5 linked regions of the Homo sapiens genome follow. The protein of the gene in region 3 purifies or fractionates together with the protein of the main gene of each other region. This does not show direct contact. Each region holds a gene or a part of one and is shown on either strand. Other genes may lie near its edges. The genes, in order: CAPZA1, TIPRL, ACOX3, TSNAX and EIF4B.

Region 1 (3,500 bases), on a different chromosome or scaffold from region 3:
AAAGGTAGTGGGAAAACACTCTCTTGTTTGGTAGAACAGAGGATTTGGAGAGAATAAAAGAGAAGGATGAACTAAGGTAAGTCAGATAGCAGTAATGATGGTAATACCAAATCTGGTTTCATTCCGTATGTCATTGGCAATGGCCACTTGCTAAAGCTTTCTGAGGACAAAGCTCCATTAATAAAAATCTATCAGTAATACAGAAGTACTGGAGTCCTCAATATGGCCTCACAAAACTTGGAAATCAGACTGCCCTATGAGAGTTAACAATGAAATCAAGACAGATGCTATCCAAGCAAGATTCATGCATTCAACAAATATCAGAAGACCCACTATGTTTTAGGCAATGGTGACTCACTAGCATACTGTCCTCATGGAGTTTACATTCTAGTGGGTAAAGACAACAGAGAAGATTAAGTAAAATACTACCTGGCAAGTGATAAATGCTAAGGAGAAAAAACAAGGCAAAGAAAAGGGACAAGAAATGTTAGGATTTGCAACTGGACAGAATAACCAGAGAAAGCTTCACTAAGGAGATGACTTCTGGTTAAGTATCTGAAATGAGGGATACAGAAGGAAAAGAACTCCAGAGAAAAGAACAAATGCAAAGATTATTCAGCGAGAATACGTGATTGGAACAAAGACCAGAAGAAGAACATGTAGGAGATAAAGTCAGAGATAAATGGCAAAGAGGTAACATCCCAGAACATAGGGACTTAGAAAAAGATGGGAAGCCACCGGAGGGCTTTGAGCAGAAAAGTGACATGTACTGACCTACATTTTAACCAGATCACTCTGGATGCTTCATCGAGGACAGACTGCTGGGCAGGAGCAACAGCAGAAGCAGGGAAACCATAAAAAATAGTATTTTAATAATCTAGAGGTCACAATGGCTTCTTCCAGAGTGGTTAGAATAAGGGTGTGGTAAGAAATAGTCAAATTCTGGGTTTATTTTAAAGACAGAGCCTACAGGATTTACCAGTGGACAACAAGTGGATTGTGAAAGAAATAGTAGTCAAAGATAACACTAATGTTTTTGACCTGAGCAACTAAAGAATGGAAGTGTCATTAACCAAGGGCGGGCAGACTGTAGGAGAAGCTGCAGTATGCAAAATTTTGACACATAACCAGTCCTGCAAAACTCCCCTGCTAGTAATGTGATAACAAATGAACCTATCTAGAGGAAAAATGTCCAATGCTGTTATACAAAGACGTGACTTGGTTTTGGTGTTGGGTACATATGCCTATTATGAAACAAAATGCCATCAATACTTTGGACTATCTAGTTAACTTCCTTTGTTCTAATTCTATGCTCCATTAAAACATTCTAACTTGATTTCCCATGTTCCTGACCTATCTGAAAAAAAGAACTTAGTTCCTTCTATATGTATTAAATTGTTATTCCAGTTTTATACATTAGTTTCATAAGCCTAGCTAAAATGAGTTTATCCCCGAGAGAGACCTGGTTTAGTATCCTGATCAATCAAGCTTCTGAGCTAAATAAGCAGAGGACTAAGATTTGAACCACAGCAAGTTCACTAAGATAATGGTTCTCAAGTATTCCAATAATTATTGGGAGGCTTATTACAAATAATTCCTGACAACTGGTTCCAAAAAATTCTGATTCAATATACCTAGGATGGAACTCAGAAATCTGTTTTTGAAGGAAACACAGATTCTGCCATAGGCAAGGATGTTCTAAGATACTGTCATACTGTAAAGTTTCTCCTTGGCCTTGTTACGGGGACTTTAGTGATCTTTAAATTTCTAGAGCCATGTTTTTCAACACCTGTTTAATAACACAGCATAAATACTAGAACTCTTCACGGCATACTTAAGCTCAAAGAGCACTAAGCAACTTTTTTTTTTTTGAGACAGAGTTTCACTCTTGTTGCCCAGGCTGGAGTGCAATGGCGCAATCTTGGCTCACTGCAACCTCCGTCTCCTGGGTTTAAGCTATTCTCCTGCCTCAGCCTGCTGAGTAGCTGGGATTACAGGCATGCGCCATCACGCCCAGCTAATTTTGTATTTTTAGTAGAGACGGGGTTTCTCCATGTTGGTCAGGCTGGTCTCAAACTCCTAGCCTCAGGTGATCCGCCTGCCTCAGCCTCCCAAAGTCCCAAAGTGCTGGGATTACAGGCGTGAACCACTACGCCTGGCCCTTCTTTTTTTTTTTTTTTTTTTTTTTTTTTTTTGAGACAGAGTCTCGCACTGTCGGCCAGGCCAGGCTGGAGTGCAATGGCATGATCTCGGCTCACTGCAACCTCCTACTCTCAGGTTCAAGTGATTCTCCCAAGTAGCTGGGACTACAGGCGTGTGCCACTATGCTGGGCTAATTTTTGTATTTTCTCTAGAGATGGGGTTTCACTATGTTGCTCAGGCTGGTCTTGAACTCCTGGGTTCAAGTAATCCGCCTGCCTCAGCCTCCCAAAGTGCTGGGATTACAAGTGTGAACCACCGCACCTGGCCATTCAGCAACAATTATAATGCAATCAGGACCACAGAACACCAATGTTTCAGTGTCTATAAAGGCATCCAGGTTACTACATGATTAACTTGGTTGCTGTTTAGGACTATGTCATTATTTCATCAAAACTGCTTACTATCTTACTATCTACTTAAAGGAATCAAAATGGGTAAGAGCATAGGCTCTGACAGCAGACAACAGCATTGTATCCACTCTGCCATTTATTAGTTCTGGACACTTGGGTCATATATTTTAACCTCAAATGTGCCTGTGCCTCAGTTTACTCTACTGTAAAATGGGCATAAGTATCTGTCCTATAAGGATGTTGTGAGATAAATACATGGTTAATACATAGTTAGCACAAAAGAAGCACTTAAATGTTACCCAGATGTAAAACAAAGAATCCACAAAGCAAAGTTCTCTTACCACCTTCCTTTGCTACAGTCTGCCATTATGCTGTTTTCTTGTTTAAACAGTATGTTATACCATGACTACACTCAACAGAATTCGATCAATGTTCCATTTCACTGACACTGCCTTAACAATCTGTATGTGCAGTTGTACCAAAGATAAATTTTACACACTGCTCAAAATTTTGTAATACGTTATAGCTGTGAAGAATTTATGATAAACCAGGAAGGATGTATAAAGAAAGGAGAGGCCTGAGGCAGAGAGATAATTAAAAATGTTGTTAAAAATAATTCAAGCATAAAAAAAGGTCCTGAGTGAAAATAATGGTAGATGGAATGTGGACAGGTTAGAGATATTATTAAGTGAAAAGTGTGTCTGTATATGCATAGAATTAGAAAAGATACAAGAGGAATTGGTAATATTGGCTACTTGTCAGGGAAACTGGGTGGGTGGAAGACAGGGGCAGGAGGCGACTTTTTACTTGTGCCCTGTCCCACCATTTTAATTTTTTTTTTTTTTTTGGTAGAGACCGGGATCTCACTATGTTGCCCAGGCTAGTCTCAAACTTCTGAGCTCAAGTGATCGTCCCGGCTTAGCCTCCCAAAGTATTGGGATTACACGT
Region 2 (6,632 bases), on a different chromosome or scaffold from region 3:
AGTTATTTCTGGAAAGTATTAGAGACCCAATTATAATGCAGTGGTAAAGAAATATGAATAACCATACTTGTTATGTGTGTTTTCTACTTCTTTTATTTTATTTTATTTTTTTTTTTTGAGACGGAGTCTTGCTCTGTCGCCCAGGCTGGAGGGCTGGAGTGCAGTGGTGCGATCTCAGCTCACTGCAAGCTCCGCCTCCCGGGTTCACGCTTCTCCTGCCTCAGCCTCCCGAGTAGCTGGGACTACAGGTGCCCGCCACCAGGCTGAAAATTGAAGTGGTAGTTGAATGATGCACTGAAATCATAACACATGGATCATTTTAAAAAATGACATCCACCTTGCCGTCTGCAGATCCTATCAACATCATTTTTAATCCAAAATGTGAAAATTAAGCCACAGTCTTCATTAGAGTTAAATAATAAACAAATAAACTACAAGGTGGCCAGGCAGGTCTATTAAAAATGCTTTGCTAAAATAAAGCCTTAAGAATACACAAATATTTTGTGAATTTTATAATGGATATTCAATAAGATACACTCTAGATTCAAGTGAAATTGTACATGACATCATGTTAAAGCTCAGTGTTATTCTTTTTTTTTTTTTTTTTTTTTTGCTCTGTCGCCCAGGCTGGAGTGCAGTGGCGTGATCCTGGCTCACTGCAAGCTCCGCCTCTTGGGTTCACGCTACTCTCCTGCCTCAGCCTCCCGAGTAGCTGGGACTACAGGCGCCCGCCACCATGCCCAGCTAACTTTTTGTGTTTTTAGTAGAGACGGGGTTTCACTGTGTTAGCCAGGATGGTCTCGGTCTCCTGACCTGGCGATCCAGCCCGCCTCAGCCTCTCAAAGTGCTGGGATTACAGGCGTGAGCCACCGCGCCCGGCCAGGCTCAGTGTTATTCAAAGTGAGTCATATTTTTGTCTGATGTTAAGAATGCAAGAAAAATATTAATTTTAAATAAAAATAATACTCACAATCTTCACACTCAGGCTTGAAACTCCATGATCATGAAGTTCATCCTCAAAAAGGAGAACTTCTTCAAAAAACTTAATCTGTTCTCTGGCTTTCAATTTTTCTGTATCTATATGATCTGTTGTAGGTACAACCTGAAAGAAAAAATTTTAAAGAGGAGCACATTAAAAAAAAAGTTGAGGAGCTACAGAGACACAGGAAAGCAGTCTTTTCTTTTCTTTTTCAATCAGTCTTTTCTACATAGCCAGAGCACACAGTTCTAAATTTGGGTGTCATTAGTAGATATAAAAGATCAGAATATGGCTTGATTCTGAAAACTGAAGACATTACAGATGCCCAATATTATAGCTTCACAAAAAAAGCAGTAAAAATTTATCATTTTTCATGCAAGTCATATTAAAATCAACTTCTGTTGTGACTATGAGAAAATTAATCAACTAAACATCAGTCAGTGTGATGAACGACTGCTATCATAGAAGGTCATAGAACATTTGTGCTGTGAAAGCCACTTTTAGGACATTCATATGGAACTTAAAAAATATTTTTCCATTAGAATGTTAGATATTTGCTCAACCTAACTCCCCAAAACCTACAACAAAATAAAGTGCTTTAAATAATGAGGTAAACAAGAACTTGTAGAGAAATTCTGAGGGAAACTCTTAGCATTGCAAAGAGCTTTGAATGAAGTTGGCAATTTTTCAAGGTATTATTTTGTAGCTCTAAGACATGCACACACGTAATCCAACAAAAGCATCAACAGTCCCAAGGCAGATCATATCAGGAGCTCATTAAACTCAAGTGTCTCCTGAGCAGCACCCAAGTATGAATTGTGATACTATTTTCTACCACACCTAATTTCACTACAAAATGCTCAGCTGTTTTACTCCTTGACAGGTTTACCATAAACAAACACAACAATGCTTGTCAAACCATAGATATTTAGTAAATGTAGCTTTACTTAAGCGTCATGATTAGGTGATTTGTTTTGACTCATGGACAAAATTAGCAGATGGAGAGTAATTTGAGATAACTAGATAAGAATCAGAAGAAAATTACAAAGGATGTTGTTTACAAGACTGCACAGATTTTGGGAGGAAATCTAAGGGAACGTTAAGTAATGTAGGGGGAAAAGATGCCATGAAAAGAAAGTGGCAGTTTGTATATGATTTCCAGGAGGTAAAAAAATGTCCATAATTCTTCCATGGTCACTTAGAGATAACACTTAGCCCTAAGCAGTTTTACTTCCAACTGTGTACGGAGCAGGTATAAGGCCACTCTTGAGGTGAAAACTGGGAGGGGAAGGGAGTTGGAGTGTAGGGGCAGGGCATATAACCAGTCCCCTGCATCACACATTAAGTTTATGATCTAGTTAAACAAAAGTTGGTCTGCCAACGAGGACTGCCTAAGGTTACACAACTGAAATTAGTGTTAAATACACACACTTGTAAATTTCGTCCTTTTTATTTGATTTTAGTTCAGAGGAACACATTTTTAACATCCTCCTTATAGATACTCCTGAATCCCCCAAAATTAATCATTATCTGAATTTTCTCATTAGTAAATTGCTTCATTAATGTTTCACATATGCCTTCAGTAAGTGATTGGTCAAAATGAATCTGTCAGTTTTTCCATTTACGTACTTGTTCTTATAAAATGAAAGACAAAGTCAAAAAACAAAGCATGAGTTAGAGATATCATATTTAACTTATTTATGCTATTGTCTCCATTTGCAAGGCTAAATATGTCTAAAACTTTATACTTTTCAGCTCTCTTCCTCAACTCCACATATCTCTCTCTGAACCCAGGGATCTAAAAAATACAACAAAAAAAAAATAACCAGCTAAATATAAAACATATGGGCTGGGCGCGGTGGCTTATGCCTATAATCCCAGCACTTTGGGAGGCAAGGCGGCCGGATCACTTGAGGTCAGGAGTTTGAGACCAGCCTAGCCAATATGGTGAAACCCCATCTCTACTAAAAATACAAAAACTAGCTGATCGTGGTGGCAGGCACCTGTAATCCCAGCTACTCAGGAGGCTGAGGCAGGAGAATCGCTTGAACCCGCGGGGCAGAGGTTGCAGTGAGCTGAGATCACACCATTGCACTCCAGCCTGGGCGACAAGAATGAAACTCTATCTCAAAAAAATAAAAAACATATGGAACAGTATTGGCAGAATAAGTAATCTAGACAAACCTTCTTGATGAAGACAATTTAAAAAGCTGGCTAAAAAAACCCAAAAACTTCCTAAAAGCATCAAATGGCCAAGGCAGTATGGAGTTACTGGGCTGAGATCTGGAAAGACTGGAGCCGAGAAAAGTAAGTCTGTACTTGGCTGGCTTTTGCCCTGAGGCATAGCACTGGCTGATCCAGAGAAGAAGCTGGGCTCTGCTAGCTTTTGGTGCCATCACTGCTCAGTGCTCACTAAGGACAAGGACCCTGGAGAATTTCCTGCTTCCTCCCAAATCAGAGATGACACCCTAAAGAGCTATAGTGATTTCAGAACTTTTTTTTTTTTTTCTTGAGACAGAGTCTCGCTCTGTTGCCCAGGCTGGAATGCAGTGGCACCATTTCAGTTCACTGCAACCTCCAGCTCCTGGGTTCAACCAATTCTTGTGCCTCAGCCTCCCAAGTAGCGAGGATTACACACACATGCCACAACGCTTGGCTAATTTTTTTGTGTTTTTAGTAGATACAGGGTTTTGCCATGTTGGCCAGGCTGGTCTCGAACTCCTGACCTCAGGTGTTCCGCCTGCCTCGGCCTCCTAAAGTATTGGGATTCAGGTATGAGCCACTGTGCCCAGCCTCAGAGCTTCTTATCTGCAGGCCCAGTACACCTCAAACTCTGGTCCTAGACCAAGGCAGGCAAACTAAGACATGCAGCTCACATCTGCCCTGTTACCTATTTTTATGGGCTGCAAGCTAATAATGGCTAAATAATTGGAGAAAAAAAATCAAAAGAAAAATATTTCATGACACATAAAAATTACATGAAATTCAAATTTCACTGTCCATAAAGTTTTATTAAAGCATAGCCATGCCCATTCATTTATATATTGTCTATGAGTGATTTAGACTATGATAGCACAGCTGAGTTGCTGCAACAGAGACTCTAAGGCCCACAAAGCCTAAAATATTTACGTCTGACTCTTTACAGAAGAAGTTTGCAGAGCTCTGTCCTTGACTATGAATATTCTCGAGCGCCTGTCAGAACTAAACAAAAATCCTCTCTGAAGGAAAACACCATCATCCTAGAACTGAAATGAAAATAAAGAGGCAAATTAGAAGCCTAGATGTCATAACCCAGAACCAACTGAAATAAAAGACACTAGGGATTCCAGAGGTGATTGAAATTATTAGGCCTTAGTCCATTTGGGCTGCTATTTAATATAATAATATACCATAGATAATATATCTACTTTTATTCTAGGTATTACAATATTAACTTAGGTTCCCTAATACTTGATATACTATATTATCATAGTAACAGCTGCCATTTATTGAGATCTTACTGCAAAACACACACTGTTTTGAGATAGGGTGTCGCTCTGTCACCCAGGCTGGAGTACAGTGGCACAATCACAGCTCACTGCAGCCTCGCCTTCCTGGGCTCAACTGATTCTCCCACCTCAGCCTCCTGAGTAGCTGGGACTATAGACACGTGCCACCAGACCCGCCAATTTTTCTATTTTTTGTAGAGATGGGGTTTCACCATGTTGCCCAGACTGGTCTTGAACTCCTGAGCTCAAGTGATCCATCTCAGCCTCCCAAAGTGCTGGGACTACAGGCATGAGCCACTACACCCAGCCTACATACATAATTTTATTTCCTACTTCACAACTAGTATTACCCTAGTTTAACAAAGTGACTGAAACAAGGCTAAGTAAGACTAAATTACTTTTCCAAGCTGGCAAATGATGGTGCTGGGATTTTGAACCCAGATCTGTGTTTTGCCAAAGCCTGAGCTCATTACCACCAGTGAGTGGGTAATCACATTGACATTTATCAGCAACACCTCAGAACAAATCACATTATAGGCTGAAGTATCAATAGGAGAGTACTGAACAAATGCTTTTTGCCTTCTACTACTCTCACACTCCTTGTTTGTACAGCTGTGGTTCTCACTTGGTCACACCTAATGCTGCTTCATAACCTCCAGGAGGCTTTTCCTAAGTCAGTCCACAAAGTAAGTCATCATCATTATTGTATGGGTTTAAAACAAGTTCCCATTTCCTCACTCCTGGCAATGAAATATTAAATGGTCTCTACAAAGTTTTTCAATCAGAAGAGAGGAGGGAGGAGAACACTAATCTATGAAGTAGTATAAGGGACTAAAATAACCTTGCTCTCCCATTAGACTGTAAAGGAGGAATTTTTGTCTGCTCTGCTGTATCCAAGGCTCCTAGCATTAGTGCCTGGCATAGAGCAAGAGCTCAAGAAATATCTGTTGAATGAATGAATGAGTTTTTTCCTGGAAGCACAGAAAAATAGTTAAAGCTTGGACTGTAATAATAGCAGAAACTGAAGATAACAATCATTAAGTTCCTGCTATGAACTTTTATCTTCATGAGACTCTAAAAATTTCTGCAGAGAAAAGGGGCCCAGACACAACACTATCTTCTTAACATTTCTGCCTAAGCACCAACATATGATATCAGGTTTCCTTGTTTTGAGATGGAGTCTCACTCTGAAGCCCAGGTTGGAGCACTGTGGCGTGATCTTGGCTCACTGCAACTCTGCCTCCTGGGTTCAAGCAATTCTCCTGCCTCAGCCTCCCCAGTCTCCAGCTCCTAACCTCAGGTGATCTGCCTGCCTCGGCCTCCCAAAGTGCTGGGATTACAGGTGTGAACCACTGTGCCCGGATGACATAGGGTTTCCAATAGCTACTTTTAATATAAATATTTCAGGTTACGCTGAAATAAATTCATTCTATATAATAGTCTGTGATATTTAGAGACATTCAACCTAAACCAAATTTGCTTTATTTTATTTTACTTATTGTTTTTCTGAAACAGAGCCTTTCTCTGTTGCCCAGGCTAGAGTGCAGTGGCGTGATCTCGGATCACTGCAACCTCTACCTCCTGGGTTCAAGTGATTCTCCTGCCTCAACCTCCCAAGTAGCTGGGATTACAGACACACGCCACCAGGCCTGGCTAATTTTTACATTTTTAGTAGAGGTGCGGTCTCACTATGTTGGCCAAGCTGGTCTCGAACTCCTGACCTCAAGTAATCTGCCCTCCTTGGCCTCGCAAAGTGCTGGGATTACAGGCGTGAGCCATTGAGCCCAGCCCAGATTTGCTTCCTTTCAGTCATACTATAAGATTTCAAAATGCAGCTAACTTCACAATATAAGACCTACCAATTCCATCTTCCTAGCGTTATTTACCATGAATCTCTCTCTTTTTTTTTTTTTTTTTTTTTTTTTTTTTGAGACGGAGTCTCGCTCTGTCGCCCAGGCTGGAGTGCAGTAGTGTGATCTCAGCTCACTGCAACCTCTGCCTCCCGGGTTCAAGCAATTCTCCTGCCTCAGCCTCCCGAGTAGCTGGGACTACAGGCATGCTCCACCATGCCTGGCTAAATTTTGTATTTTTAGTAGAGATGGGGTTTCACCATGTTGACCAGGCTGGTGTTGAACTCCTGACTTCATGATCCACCCACTTTGGCC
Region 3 (3,896 bases):
GGTGCGCCAGGGCGGGAAGGGGCATCTGCTGTTTGGGGAGCCAGCAGGGCCTGGGAGTGGGGAAGACTGACAGGTGAGGTGGCTGGGAGGGCCCAGGGACAGCAGCAGCCCAGGCACCAGGGCAGGGGGCAGAGGCTGCTTAGTGGACAGAGACCAGGCCAGGTGGCCTCTCACGCCCTTTATCCTATGGGAGGGAAAGGCAAGAGGCAAGGTATAAGGTGGCAAGTGGGCATCCTTCAATTCATCTGTGGAGTCAGCGCCTAACTCGGCGTCAGGCACAAAGAGATAGTCCATGAGCCAGCCCAGGACAAGCTGCATGCGGGGCCTCCCACCACCACTGCTGCCCCGGCTGGAACTGCCAAGGGTCCCCTCACCGAGGCACGGTGCGTTTCCTGGTGGGAATGACAGGAAATCAGGAGGCCAGGGGAGCCCTCCACCTGTGTGTTTACCTGCAGAGTCCAAGCAGTCGGCAACACTGGAGACCTCAAACTTCTGGTCAAGGATGCCGGGATAGGCGTCCAGAAAGTCCACTGACTTCAGCGGACTGCGGAAGCAAGCTCCATCTAGGACACACATTCCAGTGACTTTGGTGGAAGACAGGAACCCAAACCATTGGGAACCCCAAGCTGGGGGCACCCCAAAGCACAGAGAGTGTCCAGAGGACCCGACGGCCACAGACCCACAGGCGAGGGTCTGGGTCTCAAGGACCCTCCCCACCCCAGCCTTTGCCCATGCCTTGGGGAGTTGGTCGGCACTATCTAATAACATTTCTTTCCTTCTGCAAACCTAGGATGCATTCACAGAACAGCTGAATCAGTGAGGCCAGGAGAACCCACCCCTGCCCCAGTTGGGTTCCAGCGCCCCCACCAGTGTGCAGCAGAGCCTCACCGTGGACCTGGTGTGCCAGGAGACCCAGCAAATAGTTGCTTGTCTGCTGCAGCAGGATGTTGTTGTCACCTTCGTATGTGCAGTTGGGATCGTTGTCATCTCTAAGGACACCCAACCGGTTCACTGCAACAAAGCCACAATAGTACCATCATTTAAGACGCATATTTGAGAAGCAGCCTGTCACTATGTGAGAATTTAAAAAGCCTTAAGAGGCTGGGTGCGGTGGCTCACACCTGTAATGGCAGCACTTTGGGGGGCCGAGGCGGGTGGATCACTTGAAGCCAGGTGTTCAAGACCAGCCTGACCAACATGGTGAAACCCACCTCTACTAAAAATACAAAAATAGCCAGGTGTGGTGGTGTGTGCCTGTAATCTCAGCTACTCGGGAGGCTGAGGCAGGAGAATCGCTTGAGCCTGGGAGGCGGAGGTTGCAGTGAGCCGAGATTGCGCAACTGCACTCCAGCCCGGGTGACAGAGCAAGACCCTGTCTCAACAACAACAACAACAAAAAAAGCCATGAGTTTGAGACCAGCCTGGGCAACATAGTGAGACCCTATCTCTATAAAAAATGAAAAAAAAAATTAGCTGGGCATAGTGGCACGCACCTTTAGTCCCAGCTACCCAGGAGGCTGAGGTGGGAGGATTGCTTAAGAGCCCAGGCATTTGAGGCAAAAGTAAGCCATGGTCATGCCACTGTACTCCAGCCTCCGGGACAGGGCAAGACTCTGACCAAAAAAAAAAAAGCCCTGAACTCAGCTTGACCAGACACAAAGAACTGCCACCTGTGCTTCATATCCCACCTCCAGCTCCTCACTGCTGTCAGCAAGCCCTGCAGAGCCTCCCCTGGCATGGGGTTGCTGATAGGAGGGAGCCATCTCAGCGAGCTGATGCCCCCAGGGCTACCCTTCTTCCGTCCATAACTGAATGAACTCTTCTTTTAACACAGGAAATTTCAAGATAACTGTTTTTTGTCTTTCCTATCAGTTAGCTGGATGCCTTCACATATGTTGTCAGGCTTGCTTTCCAGACCCTCACACACTTGAGCCTGCCTACTGTGATGGAAAGTGTTCTCTGAATGTGAGGCTGGGATGGGCCTAGCAGGAAGGGAGTGGAGCTGACTTCTCACACTCACGTACTGTGACTGATGGATCCTGAGAGCATGAAAGGAGTCCTATTGCAGCCATACTGCCAACACGCTTGTGATTAGCCTTGTGATCACCTAGAACACCTGATTTTCTCCTGACTTACTGTCAAATCATGCCACGAGCTTCCTGCCACGTAACAGGTTGGCCACTGAACAAGAGCTGGGAGAGGCCTCAGCAGAAACATTTGCAATTGATTTTCTAAACCTAGATGGAGCCTCGGTCATATTGGTCTCAATCCCAGCATATGTATATGTATGTGTATATGTATATGTATGTGTATATGTATATGTATATGTATATGTATATGTATATGTATATGATTAATCTTGATTCCATCATCTTTGTTGTCTGCAGTACTGCAAGATTCAATTTCCTTATTCAACTATTTATAGAATCCCGATGAGTTACAAAGACAAAAACTACTAAGGGCATTGCGCAGAGGACAAAGCATGCAAATGAGTAACTTGTGTACAGCCATGGCTACCCGCATGTCAGTAAGTGACAAAGACAGATTGTGGTGGGAGTGAGGGGCCACGTTGCTAACAGCCCATGCTGGAACAGGTGCGAGTTAGAACTGCAGTGGTGGGCGGATGATCGCTGAAAGTGTGTGTGTAGTTCTAGATAGAGCATCACAAAAACTCTCACAAACTTGGCAAGGACCAAGTGCTCCTGGAGGGCAAGAGAGTTTTGCTGATGCTGTGGCTGTTTTGAGTGTGTACATGGCCTTCTTTGAGCAACCAGTTTTTGCCAGTTAATTATTTAAGATTAGCACACGGGAAGTTTTGCAGGTAAGCTGTAAATAATGCTGATGATAATTCTAATAATAACAGCATTAGCAAATAAAAAAGTCATTGGGCACGCACTACATGCCAGATACCATGCTTACACTTCATACGTGGTAATTCACTTAATTCTGGCAAGAACCTATGTTGTGGGTACACTATTATCACCCCCACTTTAAAAATAAGAAAACTGAGCACAGTGAGGTTAAGCAACCTGCCCACAGTTACCAGGCTGTTAGATGGAGCCAGGACTCAATCCCAGGCAAGCTGGTGGCCTCCGCTCTTAACCATATAACAGCTGCCTCAGTCATCATCAATGCCGATATAACTAACTCTTTATCTAAGTGTAAGAATTTTCTATTCAAACAAAACATGGTGCTAGTTTACTACCAAGCTGTTAACCAAATAGTTAAAATTCAAATGAGCAGATCAGCTGCTCTCTGCCTATATTTTGGCCAAGAAGCATCAGGCATCTGAAAGCAGTGGGATCTATCTAGGGCAGGGGTTGGCAAACTTGTTCTGCAATGGACCAGAGAGTAAATATTTTCAGCTCTGTAAGCCACATGGTCTCTGTCACAGCTGCGATTACTCATCTCTGCCCTTGCAGTGCGAAAACAGCTGCAGGAAATGTGCAAATGAACGGGGGTGGCTGGCTGTGTTCCAATAAAACTTTATTTGCAAAAACAGGTGGCAGGCTGGATTTGGTCCTCAGGCCGCAGTCTGCCGACCCCTGGTCTAGAGTCAAACAGCAGGGCTAAGGACAGGAAACCACCATGCGCTTCTCCAAAACCTACTGGCCAGATAGCCGTGTCCTCCACACGCCTCCCGGCATTCCTGAATTCCTTGCTGGGTGGTCCACGAGGCCAGGGGCTTGCTGGCCGATGCCAGGGCGTGGATCTCACGTCCAAGCTCTGCCTTTGGGTGAGGGAATCCAACAAGAACAGGTGAAAAGAGACTTTAGACACCAAAAAGTCATAAGTCAGCAATAGCATCAAACCACCATATCACCTCTAGTCTAATACAAGACATCCCGAAAATGACAGAAGAGGAAACCTAATTGTAATTAGAAATAAAAAAGGGT
Region 4 (6,632 bases), on a different chromosome or scaffold from region 3:
TGAACAAGGCTTAATAACTTTATTGCACGACAATTACTTTCTTAAATGAAAAACCATACAGCCCTCCAAGTTTGTGATCCATTAATGTTTTCCTAAGAAGCTCAGTCTTTTTCTGGCTTCTTGTCTTTCCCTATTCAGCACTCACCATCACAATTTATTATTCTCTCACTGCATCCTCAATTCCCTTAGACTGCTATATTTTCTACTGCACCTACCCAGCAAAAACAGAATCCTCAATCAATACTAAAATATACTCATTAGTCCTTTATTCAGGTGGCTGAGTACCACTCACTGAGTTAAAAAAAAATGGTAATCACAACTGCAGAGTCTGTACCGCTACAAATTACTCTCCAATCCTTTTACTTATCATTAGATGGTTCTCTTTCCAGCCTCTTCAAACACAATTTCAAACCTTTCACCACTCTCCTCAGGGCTCTACTCAAATCCCAAACCTCTTCACTTTCAGTAGACAACCTTGCCCAATTTCAGTGACCTGGTCATTTGCCAGCTTACCTAGCACAATTTCTCACAACTGCCTTTATCCCTACCAAAAAAAAAAAAAAAAAAAATTTATATCCACACCCATCTTTACCTTCTATCCTCCAGTCTCAGATGATGAGTTGTCCCTCCTCTTGTTTGAGGTTAACTCTTCCAAATGACCTTGACCCATCTCCTCCCACCTCTTCCAGGACCTTGCTTCATAAGGTGTATGCCCTTGGGCAAGTTATTTCATCTCTCTAAACCTCAGTTTCCTCATCTGTAAAATGGGATAACAGTACCTACCTCAGAGGTTTATTTTAAGGGTTAAATGAGAACATTTACCAAGTTCTTGGCATAATGCCCAACACAAAGTAAATATTCAACAAATGCTAGCTGCTATCATGATATCATCATGAAATCTCTCTCCACATCAATTTCCCTCTACTGAATTCTTTCTGGTAGAGACGATGCCTAAATTGTTATTAAAAGACGGTATGTATAAAAGGGTAGGTGAAGTTGCAGTTACATCAAAGGACATTTTAGGTAGTGGGAACTACAAAGGCATACAGGTAAGAATTGTGCATTTGAGGAACTAATGAGATAATTCTTTTGAGTAAAGTTTAAAGGAAGTTACATAAATATAAGCTGAGACAAGGGAGACAGCTTTATTAAGATCACTCTTTGCTATGTATCTAATACTTGAATCCTAGCACTGTTTGGACTCTGCAGAGACCATTTGGTGCAACGTCCTCATCATTTAGCATGAGAAATGAGGTCCGAGAAACATCACAGGTAATATGACGTTGAGCTATGGGAATATGATAGCTAGTTAGTGGCACTAATGTTTCCATTCTATTTTTCTGCATGTTTGAAATTTTTCACAAAACTTTTTAAAATAAAAATTAAATAGTTTTGACAATATTCTCAACAGGCAAGTCAGAGCAAAATACCTTTCCCAATCAAATTCCCAGAAATTTCAGCACCAAGCATCTTTAGCACTAAAACTTATTTATGAACATAGTCTTATACAATTTGAAACATGTATATGAATATTATAGCCCCATAATCTTAAAATAATCTGGTACCTAAGTCCTGAAAACAGTACTTTGACTCTCAATTTTCTGGCCTTTTCCCCAATATTTTCATTTTGATACACAGAGAACTTTAAAGGAAAGTGTGGTAACTTCCCTAATATCACGTGAGAAGCAGGGTCAAATAGACCTACTTTACTTCTTTGTGTAATTCAGTCTACACTATATGAATAAAAAATATGAAGAAATTTTACTTCTCAAAATAAATTTCCTCCTTAATACACTTCATATAACTTAAAGTTAATACATGGCTTCCTTAAAGTAAGTTATACCTGTCATGCCAAATTAGTCTCATTTGTATTAATATTTTAGTTGATATTCAAGAAAATATTATTTCTACAGTGTCTTCCATCTCCTGCCTACCTATCCTTAATATATGGTGTTTTTAAAAATAATTTTTAAAAGAAAAAATAAAGAAAATTTTTAAAATAATTAAATATTTAATATTTAGTAAATTAAATTAATAATTTAATAATTTAATATTTAAACAATTATTTAAATAATATAAATTATTTTAAAATATTTAATTTTAAGTGTACTGGTATCTCAGAAAGTATCAAATAGTCAATACAGCTTACCTTACTGCCTGTTATATCTTGAAACCCAGAAGGAAAAAAATAGTATTTGTTTAAAAGTCAAACTGCAAAGTTTTTCTTAATTCAGAAAAGCTACATAAATTTCAGATATAAGCATTATGAATTGAGTAAATGATTAACAGCTCTCACTATATAAAAACTACTTTATAATGGCAAACTACTGAGCACTTCCGTGTCAGGTGCTGTATATAATGTATATTACGTGTCAGGTGCTGCTGTATATTGCCTAATTAATAACCTTTAAGTCAAATCCTTTAAAACAACCCTTTGAGGTAGGTACCTGATGCAAGGGATCCCTGTAGCACACTGTGAGAAGCGCTGGCAGAGTGGACAAGGGCACAGGCTTGGATTCAAAATACCTAACTTCAAATCTTAGCTCTGCCACACTTTTTAGTTGTGGCTTCTGGCAAGTTACTTAACCTCTCTAAAAGTCTGTTTCTTTCTCTGTAAAATGAGAGTAATAATGCTTACCACATATGGTTAATAAAAGGATTAAATAAGACAGTGCTTACAAAGGGCAAGTGAAAAATAGAGAGTAAAACCAAAAGAGGACTTACAGTAAGCACTCCATAATGCTTTAGGTAAAGAGCATTACTTTCCCAATATGCCCAGAGTTGTTCTTGTTCTATCCACTAACTGAAATATTTAAAAAGACCATTTCCTAGTTGAGACTCTACAAAACCATACTTTAGAAAGAACATTCCCATCTCAATCTTAGCATAAGCCAGTAAATCTACTAGAATCGTCATACTGTTACATAAATTATATAACAAATGTGAAATAAATTTTAAATTCTCACAGTTTTATTTTCTTTCCCATTGTCTTCAGTCGTAAATATCAATTGTTTATTAATTTCATCCATACTAATTAATGATCGTGTTTTGATGAAGTGTTGAAAAGAGACAGCTTCCACATATTCCTGTAGTCCTGAAAGCGTGACAAAGAAAATTACTAAGAATAAGCACTTAATTAGTAAGAATGTCATAATAAAAAAACTTCATATTGATCATCATCTAGTTCAAAAAAAAGCTTAATGGATGCCTACTACAATGCCAGTACTAGACTAGACACTTAGAATAGAAAGAATGGCCTGGGGACCAGGCGCGGTGGCTCACGCCTGTAATCCCAGCACTTTAAAAGGCCAAGGCGGGTGGATCACTTCAGGTCAGGAGATGGAGACCAGCCTGGCCAACACAGTAAAACCCCAACTCTACTAAAAATACAAAAATTAGCTGGACATGGTGGCGGGCGCCTGTAATCTCTGGGCCACTGTGCCCAGCCAGAAAAAAAATTTTTTTAAGAGTTTAAGTAATTAGGATTTAAGAAAAGCTTATTCTGGCCGGGCACGGTGGCTCACGCCTGTAATCCCAGCACTTTGGGAGGCTGAGGTGGGCGGATCACCTGAGGTCAGGAGTTTGAGACCATCCTGGCCAACATGGCGAAACCCCATCTCTACTAAAAATACAAAAAATATTAGCCGGGTGTGGTGGCAGGAGCCCGTAATCCCAGCTACTCGGGAGGCTGAGGCAGGAGAATCGCTTGAACCCAGGAGCCGAAGGTTGCAGTGAGCCAAGACCGCACCATTGCACTCCAGCCTGGGGGACAAGAGCGAGACTTCGTCTCAAAAAAAAAAAAAGGGGGGGGGGGGAGAAAAGAAAAGCCTATTCCATAATTTTGATAGGCTTTAATAAAAATTATATAAATTAATTTGTTTTATTTTGCTGGGTAACGAAGCAATGATTCAAACAAATGAGACATAAAATTAAGAATCATTTGGGCCGTTCACGATGGCTCACGCCTGTAATCCCAGCACTTTGGGAGGCCCAGGCGGGTGGATCACGAGGTCAGGAGATCCAGACCATCCTGGCTAACATGGTGAAACCACATTTCTACTAAAAATAAAAAAACTTAGCCGGGCGTGGTGGCGGGCGCCTGTAGTCCCAGCTACACAGGAGGCTGAGGCAGGAGAATGGCGTGAACCCGGGAAGCAGAGCTTGCAGTGAGCCAAGATCATGCCACTGCACTGCGGCCTAGGCGGCAGAGCGAGACTCGTCGCAAAAAAAAAAAAATAATAATAATAATAATAATAATTTGGATCTTTCTTAAAGTTTTAATAGGCAAAATCACTTTTAACTAATGTAGGTAAGTGTCAAAATACCGTTTATCTTTTCATAGTTCAAAATGGATCTAAGACTAGATAACTCCTTTCTGCTTTGGTAGTTTAAGAAAAAAAAAAGAGAGCTATGCAATACAATTTTGTACAAGACAGAAACAACCCTTGAATTGAAGAGTAAATTTTGGTAAAGATCAAAATGTAACTTAAATACTTTTAAAAATGTTTATATAAATGTAAAGGGCACAAGTGCAATTTTGTTACATGTCTACAGTACTATACTTTTCCAAGTGTTTTAAAACAACTACTTTCTGGCCGGGCGCCGGTGGCTCACACCTGTAATCCCAGCACTTTGGGAGGCCAAGGCCAGCGGGTCACGAGGTCAGGAGATCGAGACCATCCTGGCTAACATGGTGAAACCCCGTCTCTACTAAAAACACAAAAAATTAGCTGGGCATGGTGGCGGGTGCCTGTAGTCCCAGCTACTTTGGAGGCTGAGGCAGGAGAATGGCGTGAACCCGGGAGGTGGGGCTTGTAATGAGCCGAGATTGTGCCACTGCACTCCAGCCTGGGCAACAGAGCAAGATTCCATCTCAAAAACAACAACAACAACAACAACAACAAACTATATTCTATAGCCACAATTTTCAATATTATTTGATGTCTTAATCTGAAAGGTGATACAGGGAAAAAGCATTTCTTAATTATTATTGTTAGTTTAAGAAACTTTTTAAAGGTTTGTTGTAAAAATAGCAAGAGAATACATTTCTGATTATGCAAAGAAAACTCAGAACTTAAGAGGATATTTAAGTTCTCTAACATTTTTTATGACAGAGTCCTGCTACTCACAAGTCTCCCCCACCTGCCACTACACTTCTGGTATGGCAGCAACAGTGTTGGGGAGGCTAACAGCTGTAGTATCATCACATCAAATGCCAGGCAAAGGTCCAGGATACAAGGGAAAATGGGTGACCCTGGTTTTGATAGCACTAAGAGGAAACTTAACTAAATGAAAATATCCTGACTCATTCTGAGCTGCAAATGATGCCCAAATATAGGTCAGAAGGGACAATTTAACAAACCATAATGTTCTGAGAAATTAAACATTAACGAGGTTAAGTTTAACAAAACAGATGATGTCATTTATATTTATAATTAAAAATATTTTTAATTAAATGTTTAATTTTATGAATTTTTAGTTTTATGAATAGGTGACACCGCCCAGTTCCCCCCCAAAGAAAATCTCTATTTCTCATTTCCTTCTAAAGATACTTCATGCACACAAAAGCAAACAGCAAAACGTAAAGATGCATAATCACATCTCCATGCTCTAATGTGGTTAGCCTCTTATGAGCTAAACAAGAAGATATGCACAAAGATTTACATATAAGGATGTTTGTCACTACAGCAAAAAAAATTTTTTAAAGTTAAAAGACCAGTAATAGCTGTATCACTTGTCAATTTTTGTCTCTTAGTTCCATTATTTCAGAAGAAGGAGGTGGATACTTAAAGCATGTCTCCTATGCCAGCTGGCAATATATTAAGCTTTGTCAGTACAGGGTGCTAGGTGCTTAAAGAACTGTAAAGAGCTCTCTGCCTGGTTCTGCTGTGCCCCTCTTCACAGCCCTGAGTATGGGGCAGCCAGCACTTCAAGGTGGCCAACAGCATGTAGCACCTGCCTGGGGACAGCTTCTTTTGTACTCCAGAGAATGGCTTCCCAGTAAGCCACCTCCTTGGGCAGGGAATTCCTTTCCATGGCATTTCCCCATGGACAGCTTCCCAGAGAGTCCATCAGCACAACAGCTCAGCAAATGTCTCTGCCAGCCGATGGGACATGCCCACCCTCTCCAGCATGGTCTGGACCTCATCCTGTGAAGGGTGAGGGTTGGGTTCTGCCAAATTTAGTTCCTTGGGTGCTCTGCCTCCGCCCTAGGGGTAGTGGCTGCTCACTCTATCTGAGATTCCAGTACTCTTTAGAGTTCTCTTTTACTCTTATAATCCCCTATATGGTTAATAAGTCTGTATGTTGTATTTAACTTTCCCTGTTCATATTACCATCTAATTTCTGTTTCCTGTTTGGAGCCTGATGAATACAATAAGGAATTAGGAAAATAAATAATGGTATTACTTCTCCTTCAGCCCTACTACCTAGAGAAGGTGTTCCATTTTCTGTGGCTAGTCACTGTATTAGGTTCAGGATCAAGATTCAGTACCAGCTGGGAGCTTCACATGAATTCTCCCTTTAACATACTAGGTGTTCTCACTTTATGTTCTATACTGAATCTTACAGAAATACTGAAACACACTCAGATCTGTCCTATCCATGAACCCTATATTTCCTCTCAACTATTG
Region 5 (6,632 bases), on a different chromosome or scaffold from region 3:
AGTTCCAGAACTGGCCTGATAGCAGCCACTACATGATTAAGAAAAAAACAAGCAGCTTTGTTGTAAAAAAGATTGGCTTCATGGTTTTTATAATCATGAATTTCTCCTCCATGTTCCAATTGTCACCTGATTTTTAATCCAAGAATATCAAACTTGATGTACCCCTTTGTTTAACTGAAGGTTGCTTTCTCACTTGGTATCCCTTTCTTTCAAAATTTAACTTTCAGGAAATAAAGGTAACCAGTTTGCTATGAATGTTAACACATAGCCTTCTGGACACAATTAGAACCTGAAGTATTACGGTCTCAATGTGCAAACCAGATGAACCCGGCTAAAATAATCAAAGTTGACCACGAACATGGTATTTTCTGTATCTCTCAAGTGACTTAATATTAATCCAGCTCCAAAAGTATTGTTTATGATCAACCAGATCACATTTTGAATCCATCCTACGCTTTTTTTTTTTTTTTTGAGACGGAGTCTCGCTTTGTCATACAGGCTGGAGTGCAGTGGCGCGATCTCAGTTCACTGCAACCTCCGCCTCCCAGGTTCAAGCAATTTCTCCTGCCTCAGCCTCCCAAGTGGCTGGGACTACAGGCGCGTGCCACCACGCCAGGCTAATTTTTTTTTTTTTTTTAGTTTCACAGTGTTAGCCAGGATGGTCTTGATCTCCTGACCTCGTGATTAGCCTCCCAAAGTGCTGGGATTACAGACGTGAGCCAACGCGCCCGGCCTGCTTTTTCTTTTTTCTTTTTTTGCAGTGGTGCAATCGTGGCTCACTGCAGCTTTGACCTTTTGGGCTCAAGCAATTCTCCCACTGTAGCCTCTTGAGTAGCTGGGACTATAGGCATGCACCACCATGCCCAGCTAATTTTAAAATTTTTTGTAGAGGCAGGGGTCTTGCTACACTGCCCAGATTGGTCTTCAACTCCTGGCCTCAAGTGGTCCACCCGTCTCAGCCTTCCAAAGTGCTGGGATTAGATGTGAGCCACTGCACTTGGCCTTATTCCACAGCTTTCAAAGAATACGGTTACAGAGAGGTTGGGTCTCATAGCACTTTTATTGCTGCAGCTCATATGCAAAGGTTTTTTTTTTTTTTTAGAGGGAGTCTCACTCTTGTCCAGGCTGGAGTGCAGTGGCGCCATCTTGGCTCACTATAACCTCTGCCTCCCAGGTTCAAGTGATTCTCCTGCCTCAGCCTCCTGAGTAACTGGGATTACAGGCATGTGCCACCAAGCCTGGCTAATTTTTGTATTTTTAGTAGAGATGGGGTTTCACCATGTTGGCCAGGCTGGTCTCAAACTCCTGACCCCAAATGATCCACCCACCTCGGCCTCCCAAAATGCTGCGATTACAGGCATGAGCCACTGTGCCCAGCCTCATATGCAAAGATCTATGGGAGATTTTAATAAGCGAACACGAGTAAGACATGAGGTAAACCACTTACAGTGCGTGGGCTTATTTTAGACTTTTTCATATCATTTAATTCAAAAATAGTGTCTGGGATTAATATGATGCTAGCTACAGATCCTTACCCTCATGGGGCTTAATCTAGTACCATCAGCTAATATCCAATTATTAACCTGTCCTTCCACTGGGAGGATAAAAACAGAACTGGTGGTCAGTACAATAAGGTCAAGTTCAACAAAAGAACATTAACAATCTGAATAAGGTATCCCTTTCCTCTTTGTTCTATATACGTATCTTCTACCAAAACAGCAGAATGTGGAATTAATCTGCCCTTTAGTCCGATTTGGCTTAAATCAACTTTGTAGATCACAGTTTCTCAACTCTCACCCCTTGACTCCTTTGACAAACAAGTTTCTTCTTTAACGTTATTTGAAATTTCCAAACAAATTAAATATCATGACTAAAAAATATTAAAAGCACTTTTAAATCTTAGAATGTCTTTTCAAATCACAAGTCTCCCCCTCCTCTGATTGCCACCCACTCCCAGGCCCTCTGGTTAAGAAATTACTGTTGGGTGTGGTGGCTCACGCCTGTAATCCCAGCACTTTGGGAGGCCGAGGCGGGTGGATCACGAGGTCAGGAGATCGAGACCATCCTGGCTAACATGGTGAAACCCCGTCTCTACTAAAAATACAAAAAAATTAGCCGGGCATGGTGGCGGGCACCTGTGGTCCTAGCTACTCGGGAGGCTGAGGCAGGAGAATGGCGTGAACCCGGGAGGCGGAGCTTGCAGTGAGCTGAGATCGTGCCACTGCACTCCAGCCTGGGCTACAAAGCGAGACTCCGTCCCCCACAAAAAAAAGAAAAAAAAAAAAAGGAAAAAAAAAAGAAATTACTGTTGGATAAGTCTTTTTTTTTGAGACAGAAATTTTGCTCTTGTTGCCTAGGCTGGAGTGCAATGGTGGAATCTCGGCTCACCGAAACCTCCGCCTCCCGGGTTCAAGCGATTCTCCTGCCTCAGCCTCCCAAGTAGCGAGGATTACCGGCATGCACCACCACACCTGGCTAATTTTGTATTTTTAATAGAGATGGGGTTTCTCCATGTTGGTCAGGCTGGTCTCCAACTCCCAACCCCAGGTGATCTGCCCGCCTCTGTATCCCAAAGTGCTGGGATTACAGGCCTGAGCTACTGCGCCCCACCTGTTAGATGAGTCTTAAAAAAACAGGCTAAAATTCCTTACAAGATCTTCAACTTATTTAACTGTAGCAGCAGCACTGACTCAGTCAAAATATAAGCAGCAGGTTTAAAGGAATTAGCCCTTGGAAAGCAAAATCAATAAACCTAAAGTAGGTGCCCGTGTTTGTTCCACTCCGTTTCATTCCAGTTAACTGAGAAAAGATGTTATCTAAATCCTCCATGCCCTTTGCTCCCTCAATACCTAGGCCCATTACATGTTTAGATTTCAACAGTGTTCCCTCTGCTTTATAAGTAAAGCACTGTTTAATGCTCCAGGTTTATCAATCCTTTGCAATTCAACAATGAACTGGTCCAATTCTTTAATTTTCTCTAAATCTTATGTGAACTGGTTAAAAAGTTAACAAATCAATCACCTCACAAAACAAAACCTGTCCCAATTATTTATACATGGTCTACAGTGGGGAAAACACACCTCCAGCTCTTTATATACCCATACAGGTTTAATAAAAGATCTTAAAAACGGAAATATTGCTAAGTCCAGAAGCCGTTAAACAAGAGACAACACATTCATGGTTTTCTTAATAAACAGGATTTGTTATAATAGATACTAAAATAAATACAGCCTACTTCTTAACTCAGAGTTTCTCTATCTCAGCACTGCTGATATTTTAGCTTAGGTAATTTGTCATGGGGGGATTTTAGCAGTTATCTCTGATTCTGCTCATTAGATGCCAATAGTAATCCCCGATCCCCATTCCACTCTGACAACCAAAAGCGTCTCTGGACACTGCCAAATGCTCTGGGGTGGGATGAGGGTTTGGGATGAAAAGACTGTCCCTTAGCTGAGAACCATGTTCTAAGTGATGTTTCACTTCAATAAATAAAAAGATAAATGAAAAGGAATTGTTAGTCCTATATAAAGGACTTTTCTTTGGGGGTGATAAAAAGGTTCTGAAATTAGATAATAATGATGGTTGAACATCTCTGAATATACTAAACCCCACCAAATCATACAGGGTCTTGCTCTGTCACCCAGGCTGGAGTACAGTAGTGAGATAATGGCTCACTGCAGCCTTGACCTCCAGGGCTTAAGCAATCCTCCCACTGCAGCCTCCCAAGTAGCTGGGACCACAGGTACATGCCACCACCCCTGGCTAATTTTTAAAATTTTTTTTGTAGAGACGTGGTCTCACTATGTTACTTAGGCTGGTCTTGAATTCCTGGGCTTAAGTGATCCTCTTGCCTTGGCATCCCAAAGTGCTGGGATTACAGGAGTGAGCCACTGCACACGGTCCAAACTGTATACTTTAAAAGTGTAAATTTTATGGTATACAAATTACATTGAATAAAGCTGTTACTAAAAGTGAGTTCTGCCACATTCTCCATAATTAAAAGCTACTTTAGGCCAGGTGTGGTGGCTCATGCCTGTAATCCCAGTACTCCGGGAGGCCAAGGTGGGAAGATCACCTGAGGTCGGGAGCTCGAGACCAGCCTGGCCAACATGGTGAAACTCCATCTCTAGAACCGCTTGAACCCAGGAGGTGGAGATTGCAGTGAGCTGAGACCACGCCACTGCACTCCAGCCTGAGCCATAGTGAGACTCTGTCTCAAAACAAAAACAAAAACAAACAAAACAAAAGCTACTTTAAATAATGAATAACAAATGTTTCCCTAAACCAACAACATTGCATAAACACAATCGATCCACCCAGAGTGCCTAGAATTAGACTAATTATATTGGTGTTTACAGCCCAGCCATGAAAAGACATTTCATGCAATGTAATACAATATTTCACCTTCACCTTTACTGCACTATATAGATGCTCCCTGACTTATGATGAGACTGTCAGGATAAACCCTTCTCAAGTAAAAAAATGCATTTACTATCCGGATAAACCCATTGTAAAGTCAAAAAGATCCCAGTGCAAGCCACCTTTTGATTTAGTTGGGGATTGGGTAAGTTTAGCATAGTAAAGACTGAGTCAAAACTCATAAGCTCCACCATCTTGACCCCCGTACGGGTTCAGTTACATGACCTCTCTGTGCCCAATTACTTCATTTTGACAGAAGATGCCATACTACCTTTTCCTTATCCCTCCAGGGATACTCAATTTGATCATATACATAATCAAACAAAATAAGTGCCCAATGCATGCCATGCTAACCATTACACAAAATGGGAGACAGGAGGTACACAAATTCAAGTTAAACTTCTTGATTTGGTACTTTCCCACTATCAGGACCATAGCAGTATCTACTACAAATTTAAGAAACTGGCTCATAAATGTACATAAGGCAAACCTAATTACAAATAATTACTTAAAATACTGTACTCAAGTTCAGTTATTTCCTCTACCATCACGAAAAGAGAATTCCAGAATGTTTTGAGATGAAATATACCTCTTTTTTCAATGACATTACTTAGAAACACTGCTTTATCTTAATTGACACTATTCTGTATTTGTATTTAAACTTTCATAAAGAGTTTTAATTTTGGCCTTCTGGGTATCTTACTCACAGAATAACATATACATGATAGAGGATGGAACTTGACACTAGGGAATCTGTAAGCAATATATAATGGCACCCCTTAAAACCATTTCACTGTGAGAGTCAGCAGTGTATGAAAACAACCACTGCAGAGCATCTTCTCCCTATAAAAATAATCAAATAAGATGTCACACAGGACTGCATTTTGAAGCATTATGGAAATGAAAGGCCTGTGCATGAGCTTACATATGTTATTTCCAATTTTAAAGTTTGTTTTTGTTTTTTTTTTTTGAGACGGAGTCTCGCTCTGTCGCCCAGGCCGGAGGGCAGTGGTGCAATCTCAATTCACTGCAACCTCTGCCTCCTGGATTACAGGCGTGAGCCACCACGCCCAGCCCAAAACCCCGCTAATTTTTGTATTTTTAGTGGAGACTGGGTTTCACCATGTTGGCCAGGCTGGTCTCGAACTCCTGTTCTCAGGTGTTTCACCCACCTCAGCTTCCCAAAGTGCTGGGATTACAGGCATGAGCCACTGCACCCTGCCCAATTTGAAAGCATTTTAAATGTTAACCTGTATCAAACGCATTTGATTCCCTCTAGGTAAGGGGACAGCAGATAAATAATGACCACTTTCCAGATAAAGAAACTGAGATTCAAGCGGTAACTGGCTTATTACTGGCAAGTCTACTAAAGTAGTCACAATGAAAATTTAAGAAAAATGAAAAACTTCGTATTTTTAAGATTTTTTTTTGAAATGGAGTCTTGCTCTTTTGCCCAGGCTGGAGTGCAATGGCACAATCTCGGTTCACTGCAATCTCCCCCTCCCAGATTGAAGCGATTCTCCTGCCTCAGCCTCCGGAGTAGCTGGGATTACAAGCACGCGACACCACGCCCAGCTAATTTTTGTATTTTTAGTAGAGACAGAGTTTCACCATGTTGGTCAGGTTGGTCTCCAACTCCTGACCTAGTGATCCGCCCGCCTCGACCTCCCGAAGTGCTGGGATTACAGGCGTGAGCCACCGCGCCCGGCCTTTAAGAATTCTTTTTAAGAAGCAAAGCAAGGAATTAAGTGTACTGGCTCAATGTATCAAGTTTCTAGGAATTCAAACTATCCTCATTCTATAGTTAGTTCTGAGACCTACCTTAGTTCTTGAAGGTCAATAATGGATCACACTGGAAACTGGTATTGCTGCAAAGAATTTTTTGGTCTCATTTAACAGTAAAAGAGGCGTATGAAGTTGTTTTATGTATTTTCACACAGAACACATAACATCCATTTCCCACATCAGGGAATACTGGTTACTTCACAAAGCCAGTGTGACTGGAAAGAGGAGCGGGGAAACAATCCGATAAACCCCAGATTCCTCAAGAACAGACTGAAAGATGTGACTTGTGCTCAGATACCAGTACCAGCTAAAAAGATTTACTGAAGTGAATTAAAGGAGATGAGGGTTTTCAAGGGGGTAGAGTAAATATGGAAGAACAAGAGAATGGGACGTCAGAGTAAATCCCTTTTATCAGTCTGGATTTCCCT

Evidence for each region.
Region 1: the proteins of ACOX3 (region 3) and CAPZA1 fractionate together in Homo sapiens (co-fractionation; one large-scale study listed by BioGRID). This does not show direct contact.
Region 2: the proteins of ACOX3 (region 3) and TIPRL fractionate together in Homo sapiens (co-fractionation; one large-scale study listed by BioGRID). This does not show direct contact.
Region 4: the proteins of ACOX3 (region 3) and TSNAX fractionate together in Homo sapiens (co-fractionation; one large-scale study listed by BioGRID). This does not show direct contact.
Region 5: the proteins of ACOX3 (region 3) and EIF4B fractionate together in Homo sapiens (co-fractionation; one large-scale study listed by BioGRID). This does not show direct contact.

The regions. Positions count from the first base shown.
Region 1 is NC_000001.11:112,626,332-112,629,831, reverse strand, and holds part of CAPZA1 (F-actin-capping protein subunit alpha-1), read right to left. Parts: intron 1-3,500. UniProt on the Homo sapiens protein: F-actin-capping proteins bind in a Ca(2+)-independent manner to the fast growing ends of actin filaments (barbed end) thereby blocking the exchange of subunits at these ends.
Region 2 is NC_000001.11:168,185,839-168,192,470, reverse strand, and holds part of TIPRL (TIP41-like protein), read right to left. Parts: intron 1,103-6,632; coding exon 971-1,102; intron 264-970; coding exon of another isoform or gene 243-263; exon of another isoform or gene 76-242; intron 1-75. UniProt on the Homo sapiens protein: May be a allosteric regulator of serine/threonine-protein phosphatase 2A (PP2A). Isoform 1 inhibits catalytic activity of the PP2A(D) core complex in vitro. The PP2A(C):TIPRL complex does not show phosphatase activity.
Region 3 is NC_000004.12:8,388,724-8,392,619, forward strand, and holds part of ACOX3 (peroxisomal acyl-coenzyme A oxidase 3), read right to left. Parts: intron 3,731-3,896; coding exon 3,610-3,730; intron 1,012-3,609; coding exon 889-1,011; intron 564-888; coding exon 450-563; intron 1-449. UniProt on the Homo sapiens protein: Oxidizes the CoA-esters of 2-methyl-branched fatty acids.
Region 4 is NC_000001.11:231,557,590-231,564,221, reverse strand, and holds part of TSNAX (translin-associated protein X), read right to left. Parts: intron 3,095-6,632; coding exon 2,967-3,094; intron 1-2,966.
Region 5 is NC_000012.12:53,008,252-53,014,883, reverse strand, and holds part of EIF4B (eukaryotic translation initiation factor 4B), read right to left. Parts: intron 1-6,632. UniProt on the Homo sapiens protein: Required for the binding of mRNA to ribosomes. Functions in close association with EIF4-F and EIF4-A. Binds near the 5'-terminal cap of mRNA in presence of EIF-4F and ATP.